Homo sapiens: one gene and its partner. The protein of the gene in region 2 interacts with the protein of the main gene of each other region in a pairwise test. Each region holds a gene or a part of one and is shown on either strand. Other genes may lie near its edges.

Region 1 (3,232 bases), on a different chromosome or scaffold from region 2:
AGCCTGAGAGGGCTGGTCAGGTGGAGTCCTCTCCTGTCAGGCAGGAGAGATGGAGTCCTCTCTTGTGCCCGGCCCAGCTCCTGTAGATGCCCAGTAAGGTCCAGACCTGTTGGGGTCAAAGCTCCTGCCAGAATCCAGATCCCCGAATCTCAGCAACCCAGGAGTCTGTCCTCACTCACCTGATGTACGGGGAAGTGGCTGCGAGCATGTTGAGACTGGTTCTGTCTGCCCCGGTCCCTCACCTAAGGGACAACCTAAAATAGAACCCAGGCTACCCCGAGGTTGCACGAAGTGCCGGCCCCGTGGGGCTGGGGCCATAGAGCTGGCCAGGCAGGGCTGCTGGGGCAGGGCGTGGCGTCTGGGCACAGGACCGCAGGCCCTTGAGGGTGCTGGAGGGGTGTAAGGGATCCTTCTGGAATCTCTCCACTCTCCCTGGAATCTCTCCACTCTCCCTGGAATCTCACAGCTTCCCCCTTCCACCTATTAAGCTGTCCCTGAGATCCTGGAACTTTGAGTCAAGGTATAAACGATGCCCTCCCCATAGGTGCTGCCCTGGGAAGCAGCAGAGCCAGCTCCAAATTGAGGGGCACAGCACTGTGGACGGGCCCCGCAGGCCCGTAACTTGGGACAGAAGGATCCCCTCAGGGCCACCCTAATCAGCATCCAAGGCAGCTGCACTGCAGGCGGGACGGATGGAGGATCTGGGAGTGACCGCCCCACCTGGGAGTGGTGGCTAAGGGGTCTGTGCTGCCCAGGACAAGGCCCAGGTGCGCTGGCAGGGACGGCAGTCCCCTGCTGACGTGTGGAGGCCGCTGCACACAGGGCCCGCCCGGCAGGCTCCATGGATGCTTGCTGACCACTAGGGCAGAACCCCTTCCGCACAGCAGAGGACACAACGAAGGGGCTGCTGAGCAGGGAGGAGCTGAGTCCAAGCCCAGTCCTGCCCCAGTCCTTTCACGCCCAGCTCCCAGCTCTACAGCTGTTGCCCACTGCCCACCCCAGGGTACCTGCAGCTGTTGGCACCCAGGGGTGCAGCTCCCAAGCACTTGCAGGTCACAGTGCAACTCCTGGCTTACTCAGGGCCAAGGCAGTTGCTGGGCTCCCAACCCTGAGGAGTCTCCACCTGGGAAGGGCATTCACTACATGCCCTCGTGTGCAGGAAGCACCACCACCATGGGCCTTTTGCATGTGACGTGGACAAGGTGGTAAGTGTTCTCCAGGCCAGCTCAGTGCATTCACAATCACTGTAGTGACTCACACCTGTAATCCCAAGGCTCTGGGAGGCCAAGGCGAGAGGATTGCTTCAGCCCAGAAGTGCAAGACCAGCTTGGGCAACATGGCGAAAAGCCCATTTCTACCAAAAAAAAAAAAAGAAAAAATAAATAAACAAACTGCTGGAGATGGTGGCACACACCTGTGGTCCCAGCTACTCAGGAGGCTGAGGTGGGAGGATTGCTGGAGCCCTGGAGGTTAAGGCTGTGGTGAGCCGTGATCGACCCCGTCTCGAAAAAACCAACAAAAAACAATGCACAGGCAAAAAAGTTTATCTGGTTGCCTCTGGGTAGGATACCTTTTTTCTTTTTCTCTATTTTATACATCCTGACAATTATTTCCAAGATGATACATGCCTCAAAACAAACAAAACCCCTCGAGACACACTCCCCAGCCCCCAGGGAAGGCATGTGTCTGGGCTGTGTAGGGGCTTCCGCTCTCCTGGGGGTAGCTCTGCCACGGTCTCTGGGGTCTTGGCATCTGTCACAGAACCCTAGTGGTTACAGGGCTCACTGTCCCACAGCCCCAGGCCACACGGTGATGTGCTGTGGCCCAGGGGAGGCCACCCTGGACTCCTGGTCAGGATCTGCCCACATGAGGAAGTGCGCCTTGGGGTAGGGCCACAGGCTGGCTCAGAGGTGCCCTTCTCTCCACAGCCAGTCCCAGGAGGGAGCTGGGTTCTGGTTTATGCGACGTCAGAGGGACGGCAGGGAGTGGAGGGCAAGCTAGAAAAGCCCAAGCTTGTTGTTTCAGCCATTTTAATACATTCAAGAATATTTACTAGAACAACATTTAAACGTATCGTCGGTCCGCAGAAGCCTGGGATCGAGAGAAATAGAAACGCGACTGGCCCTTTTGCAGTAAAGCTTGTGCTTGAAGGGAGAAGAGGCAAAGTGGCTTCTTGGAGACTTCGTGCCAGATGCCACAGGACTGAGAGCATCTCCAAATGTCACTTTAAACACGTGTGAGCATCTATAGTCATTCCTAAAGCCCACAGTGTCCTAAGGATCCTATTAGACGAGGCAAAAGGCAATGCTTCTGGAACCCTCTCCCTTGCAGCTCTGCACGCAAACCTTCCCCAAGGAGGGGCCCGAGGCAAGCCTCTAGATAGGCGGGGCCAAGCCCTCCCCGTGCCCACCCTCTTTCCCTGTTGCTGACCTCAGGCCTGATGCTGGACCCATGAGACTCCCAGAGGGAAAACACAGATACAGCCCATCCATCCATGGCCACCTTCCTCCAGAAGATCCTGGGGACCCCTACCCCCCCATCCCATGAGGCACCAGGGCTGGGCTCGCATGGCCAGCAAGGGATAAAGTTGGGAACTGCAGACCAGGGGAAGCCCCCTCATTCTTAGGGCAAAACAGCCCCTGAAGGACAAAATAAATAAACCAAACCATGACCAGACAGCTGGATCCGGACAGGTGGAGTGGCCTCTGTGAAGGCAAATGAGAGCAAAAGTGGGAACTGAGGACACCTAAGTGGAGAGACACTTAAAAACAGTAATTCTCACATGAACATCAGTGGCTCATGCCAACAGCAGAGCTGGCCATCAACAGAGGAACAGCAACAAAAACACAACTCAGACAGGGGGCGGGACGGGGCCAGGAGTCTGCGGGGGTCTCTGATATGCTTTGTGGCATGACTTTGCTTGCCTGGCCTCTCCTTTCTTAGCTGAAAACAGGCATTTCACCAAAGGGCATCCAGCCAGCGGCAGCAGCCTGAGCTCCCAGGCTGACATCTGGGCAGGGCTGATGGGCAGCTTCTGGCCATCTGGTGACCAGGTGTGCCGCCAGCTGCACCCACATGCACAGCCCCTTTCCTAATAACCACATTCTAGGTTACGTAGACACGTTAAACTCCTATTCTAGAACATCGTGCTTGAATGCAGACCCCTCAGCCCACAATCGGGCTGGCTGGGCCTCCTGTGAGCCCCTCATTGCATCCAGTCTGTGGGGCAGTG
Region 2 (5,557 bases):
CCAGGTGCAAGGCACTTGCTGCACCCTGGTCCCGGCCCATGGTCCTGCCATACACAAGGATACCAGCTCACCAAGGCTCTGTGTGTTCTATACCTGAGGCCCTCACACAAGTACCAGACTGTCCGCAAGTCATGTGGGGGATACAGGCATCAGGCCAAGCTGCTTCCCCAAACACCCTCCCAATTAAGAAAGCCTTGGCCACCAGGGTGACAATAAGACTCCCCTCACCCCACCCTTAGGCAGCCCTAGTGCCCCAATGTGGCACCAGGTTCAACCAGGTATTTGAAGGGGAGGCATGGAAGTGGTCAGTTCTGGACAAACTGAGTCAACAGTGGCCTAGGGATCTGGTCTGAGCAGCTGAAGGAAGACTTGTCATCAAGTGAGAAGGGGATGCTTGGGGTAGTGGGGCTGGTGCTGGAACGTAACAGGACAAGGTAAGCAAAGGTATCTGACACACACCCAAACAGCTGGGAAAAAGGGGGAGCGGGGCAAGAGCTTTCCTGACACATTTGGTCCTGTACAGGATAGGGTTCGCAGTCTTCTGGAGCATCAAAAAGAAGATACTGTGACAGGGATACAGAAACCAACCAGGTGACCAAAGGTGGTAGATCACTCCAGAAAAACGTGGTATAACAAAGCAACCAATCCCCTCACATGCTTGGCTCAGATGGGCACCACAACAAACAGGGTGCTTTAAGAGTGACAAAATAGGTGTCAGGGCTGGGGGCAGAAGTCAAGGGACATCATAATCTCAGTGTCTATAAAACATCAGATATAGGTGGGCGCGGTGGCTCATACCTGTAATCTCAGCACTTTGGGAGGGTGAGGCAGGCACATCACCGGAGGTCAGGAGTTTGAGACCAGCCTGGCCAACATGGTGAAACCCCGTCTCTACTAAAAATACAAAAATCAGGCCGGGTGCAGTGGCTTATGCCTGTAATCCCAGCACTTTGGGAGGCCGAGGCAGGCGGATCACCCGAGGTTGGGAGTTCGAGACCAGCCATGACCAACATGGGGAAACCCCGTCTCTACTAAAAACACAAAATTAGCCGGGTGTGGTGGTGCACGCCTGTAGTCCCAGCTACTCAGGAGGCTGAGGCAAGAGAATTGCTTGAACTCAGGAGGTGGAGGATGCGATGAGCCGAGATCATGCCATTGCACTCCAGCCTGGGCAACCAAGAGCAAAACTCCATCTCAAAACAAAAACAAAAACAAAAATCAGCTGGGTGTGGTGGCGGGTGCCTGTAATCCCAACTACTCAGGAGGCTAAGGCAGGAGAATCACTTGAACCCAGGATGTGGAGGTTGCAGTGAGCTGAGATCATCTCAGCTGAGACTCTGTCTCAAAACAAAACAAAAAAAACACACATCAGATACATGTATATATTTGCACAGACAACTTTCAGGAAGATACACAATAAACTAACTGCCTGCCTCTGAAGAACAGGACAGGGAAACACAGTTGGAGAGAGACTGACTTTCAACCCTCCCCCGTGCTGCTGTTCTCCAAAAATGCCCATTCCCTCCAAATGTGTGTGTGAGCACACTTCTGTGTTAGCGCAATGCAACTCTAATTAGAATTCCAACAGAAGTCTTTTAAAGGAATGACTACAACTACTTGAGAATTCATAAGAAGAATGGATGCTAGAGAATAGCCAAGAATTTAACTGGAAAGAACAGAGGGTGGGGACTGCCTTGCCAGGAATCAGAGCCAAGGGTGGGTAGGAAGCCGCTGCAATTAAACCAACAAGTTGTTGACAGAGGAACAGATGAAGCCAGACAGGTATGTGGGAAATTGGAAGATAACAAAAATGTTACATTTTAGTTCAGCAGGAAATCAGTGGTTCCTTTAGTAACTTGTGTGTACCCAGATGGGATACATCAATAACCAATTTTTTTGTTTGTTTTTTTTTTTGAGACAGAGTTTCACTCTTGTTGCCCAGGCTGGAATGCAACGGCGAGATCTCGGCTCACCGCAACCTCCACCTCCTGGGTTCAAGTGATTCTCCTGTCTCAGCCTCCCAAGTAGCTGGGATTACAGGCATGCGCCACCATGCCCAGCTAATTTTTTTTGTATTTTTAGTAGGGACAGGGTTTCTCCATGTTGGTCAGGCTGGTCTTGAACTCCCGACCTCAGGTGATCCGCCCGCCTTGGCCTCCCAAAGTGCTGGGATTACAGGCGTGAGCCACCGTGTCCAGCCACCAATTTTTTTTTTTTTTTGAGACGAAGTCTTGCTCTGTCACCCAGGCTGGGATGCAATGGGGTGATCTTGGCTCACCGCAACCCCTGCCTCCCAGGTTCAAGCAATTCTCCTGCCTCAGCCTCCCGAGTAGCTGGGATTACAAGCACCCACCAGCACGCTCGGCTAATTTTTTAAATATTTTTAGTAGAGATGGGTTTTCACCATCTTGGTCAGGCTGGTCTCGAACTCCCGACCTCAGGTGATCCACCCGCCTTGGCCTCCCAAAGTGCTGGGATTACAGGCATGAGCCACCACGCCCAGCCCAACAATAACCAATTTTGGATTAAGATGAAGACCAAGTGTGAGCATTAACAGTGGCCTCATGTGCTCCTGGTCCCCCTGTCTGACATCTGCCTACCCTCAAGGGCAGAAGTGCCTTCTCTCCTGCCACACCCTGACCCTTTCCATGGGTCACCCACCAGCGCACAGATCTGCCATTTCTTTATTTTGAAACAGAATCTCGCTCTGTCACCCAGGCTGGAGTGCAGTGGCATGATCTAGGCTCACTGCAACCTCCGTCTCCCAGGCTCAAGCGATCCTCCTACCTTAGCCTCCTGAGTAGCTGGGACTACAGACACCTGCCTCCATGCCCGGCTAATTTTTGTACTTTTTGTAGGTACGGGGTTTCACCATGTTGCCCAGGCTGGTCTCGAACCCCTGAGCTCAAGTGATATGCCCCTCTTGGCCTCCTAGAGTGCTGGAATTACAGGCTTGAGTCACTGCGCCTAGCCCTGCATGCGAATTTGACCTTGGGTGAATGCACAGCTCTGGTCCCCTGGAAACCTGGCAGAGGTGGATGGTCATTCTCTCTACGGACCAATCACACCTGGGCTGTGACTCAATGATGAACAACCACAGGAAGTACATTCAGGGCCTCCCTAGCAGGTCTTGCAGCCAGTTCTCTTGACACAGGAGGTGCTGGCTTGTATGACCACGAGGCTTTCGACTAGGCTAACTCCTCCTCCTACCTGCATCTTGTGTTTATGCACCTCAGTACTCCCTGGATGGCTGCTGGATGATGCTGGCCAGCTTTTCCGAGAAGCTGCTGCTAGGCATGGTTGTCCTGTGAGTCTGAAAAGTCAGTTGAGCCCAGTAGCTCTTTTGGTACACTTGAGCTCGTGATCCCCCTTCCCTCTGACTCAACCTTTCAATATGGGTGTCTCATAGCATCTCAGACATTTAACATCCCAAACCAAGCACCCCCTCTACCATCATTTCTACCCCCAGCTTGGTCTGTGAGCCTGTGCATCAGCCTCCTTCCTTCTTCACTCCCACACTTCTATTCACCTTCCAAGCACATCCAGAACCTGACCATGTTGCCCATCTCGCCCTCCCTGCCCCATGACAACCACCCCTAGATGTTCGGCAGCTCCCATCTGGGCAGACAGACTCCCAGCACCGTCTGTCTGCCCAGCCCCTCCATCTACCTTCCTGTGAGAACACAGTGACTGTCCTCTGCTCCAAGGTCCTCCCAGGACCCCACTGGCTCCTATGGGCATGCCCCAAACTTTGTGATTTTCCTCAGAGCCCTGCAGCCCTTTATCCCTTGGCCTGTGCTCCCCATCCAACTCTTAGAGACCTCTGCCCCACCCACCGCAGCAGCCCTGGCCTCACCCAGCTCTCATCCTATCCCTTTCTCCTGCACCAGCAGACCAAGAAGCAGGCCCAACAGAGTAATCAGTGGTCGACCTTTTTTTTTTTTTTTTAATTACTTCTAGGCTAATGATTACAAATTGCCAGGCAATGTACTTTTTTAAACTTTTAATTAATTTCTTAGAGACGGGGTCTCACTTTGTAGTCCAGGCTGGAGTACAGTGGCTCAATCACAGCTCAATGCAGCCTCCAACTCCTGGGCTCAGGTGATCCTCCCACTTCAGCATCCCAAGTAGCTAGGAATACAGGTTGCACCACCATGCCTGGATAATTTCTTAATTTTTTTTTTTTGGTAGAGACGAGGTCTTGCTGTGTTGCCCAGACTGGTCTTGAACTCCTAGGCTCAAGGGATCCTCCCTCCTTGGCCTCCGAAAGTGTCAAGATTACAGGCCTGAGAACACCACACCCGGCCTGTTTGTTGAATAAATGAATGAAGAGGAATGAGCTCACACTTTATGCCATCTGTAATAGCCAAGTACGGAGTCAACACTTTAAACTGGCAGGCATGGGAAAGTGGAGTTTCTCATACTCTTAAGAAGGCGACCTAGCAGTATTTAGGCAAATCAGACTGGCCCTTGGATAGTGGGTACCTGATAAGAATGGATGTGGGTGAGGGTGCAGATTCAAGGATGTTGCTGAGGCAAATGCTACGTTGGTCCTTCCACATACAAGTTACACACCTGCTAAAGAGAAAGATGTATGTTGTGTCAGGTCACCAGATGGGTGAGTGAAAATGCAGCATGGGGCCAGCATGCAGGGGAAAATCTCATTTTGTAAACTATGACCCCGAGCCCATGAAGGGTATGTGTGTCACAAGGACCTGGGACTGGTTCACCTGCCTCACTTGGGCCAGCTGCATTGAGGCCCCACCTATAAATCCAGATGACACACTCCTCTGAAGGCCTGGAGATCATGTGGTTGGTGAGAGGAGAGCGCTAAGAACAGGCTTGGCTCAGAGGAGGATGCTGCTGGATAAGGTGTTATTATCTATTTGATTAACACACAGAGGAAATACTCCAAAGGACAATACCAGGCTGTCAACAAGTGTGTGGCAAGGAGAAGTGAAAGGGAAAGACTGCCACCTGGGGTGAGTCTTAGAAAAGCATCACACAAAATGCAGTATCAGGTCTCTATTGAAAGATGACCATCACATATTGCTAATTAAAAAAAAAATCGGCCAGGCGCAGTGGCTCATACCTGTAATCCCAGCACTTTGGGAGGCCGAGGCGGGCGGATCAAAAGGTCAGGAGTTCGAGACCAGCCTGGCCAACATAGTGAAACCCCGTCTCTACTAAAAATACAAAAAGTTAGTCAGGCATGGTGGCAGGCACCTGTAATCCCAGCTACTCAGGAGGCTGAGGCAAGAAAATAGCTTGAACCTGGGAGACAGAGGTTGCAGTGAGCCAAGATTGTGCCACTGCACTCCAGCCTGCATAACAGAGCAAGACTCTGTCTCAAAAAAAAAAAAAAAAAAAAAATCCTATCACAAAGTCTGATTGTATTCTGGTAATAAATGAACAAAAATGGCTGGGCATGGTGACTCACACCTATAATCCCAGTACTTTGGGAGGCCAAGGTGGGAGAATTGCTTGAGTTCAGGAGTTCAAGAACACCCTGGACAATATAGTGAGACCCCGTCTCTATAAAAAAATTTAAAAAATT

What was found.
Region 1: the proteins of ZNF250 (region 2) and SPECC1L interact in binary tests that used the Homo sapiens proteins (3 or more experiments, as listed by UniProt).

What each region holds. Positions count from the first base shown.
Region 1 is NC_000022.11:24,416,035-24,419,266, reverse strand, and holds the end of SPECC1L (cytospin-A), read right to left. Parts: 3' UTR 1,529-3,232; downstream 1-1,528. UniProt on the Homo sapiens protein: Involved in cytokinesis and spindle organization. May play a role in actin cytoskeleton organization and microtubule stabilization and hence required for proper cell adhesion and migration.
Region 2 is NC_000008.11:144,890,658-144,896,214, forward strand, and holds part of ZNF250 (zinc finger protein 250), read right to left. Parts: intron 4,576-5,557; exon of another isoform or gene 4,486-4,575; intron 1-4,485. UniProt on the Homo sapiens protein: May be involved in transcriptional regulation.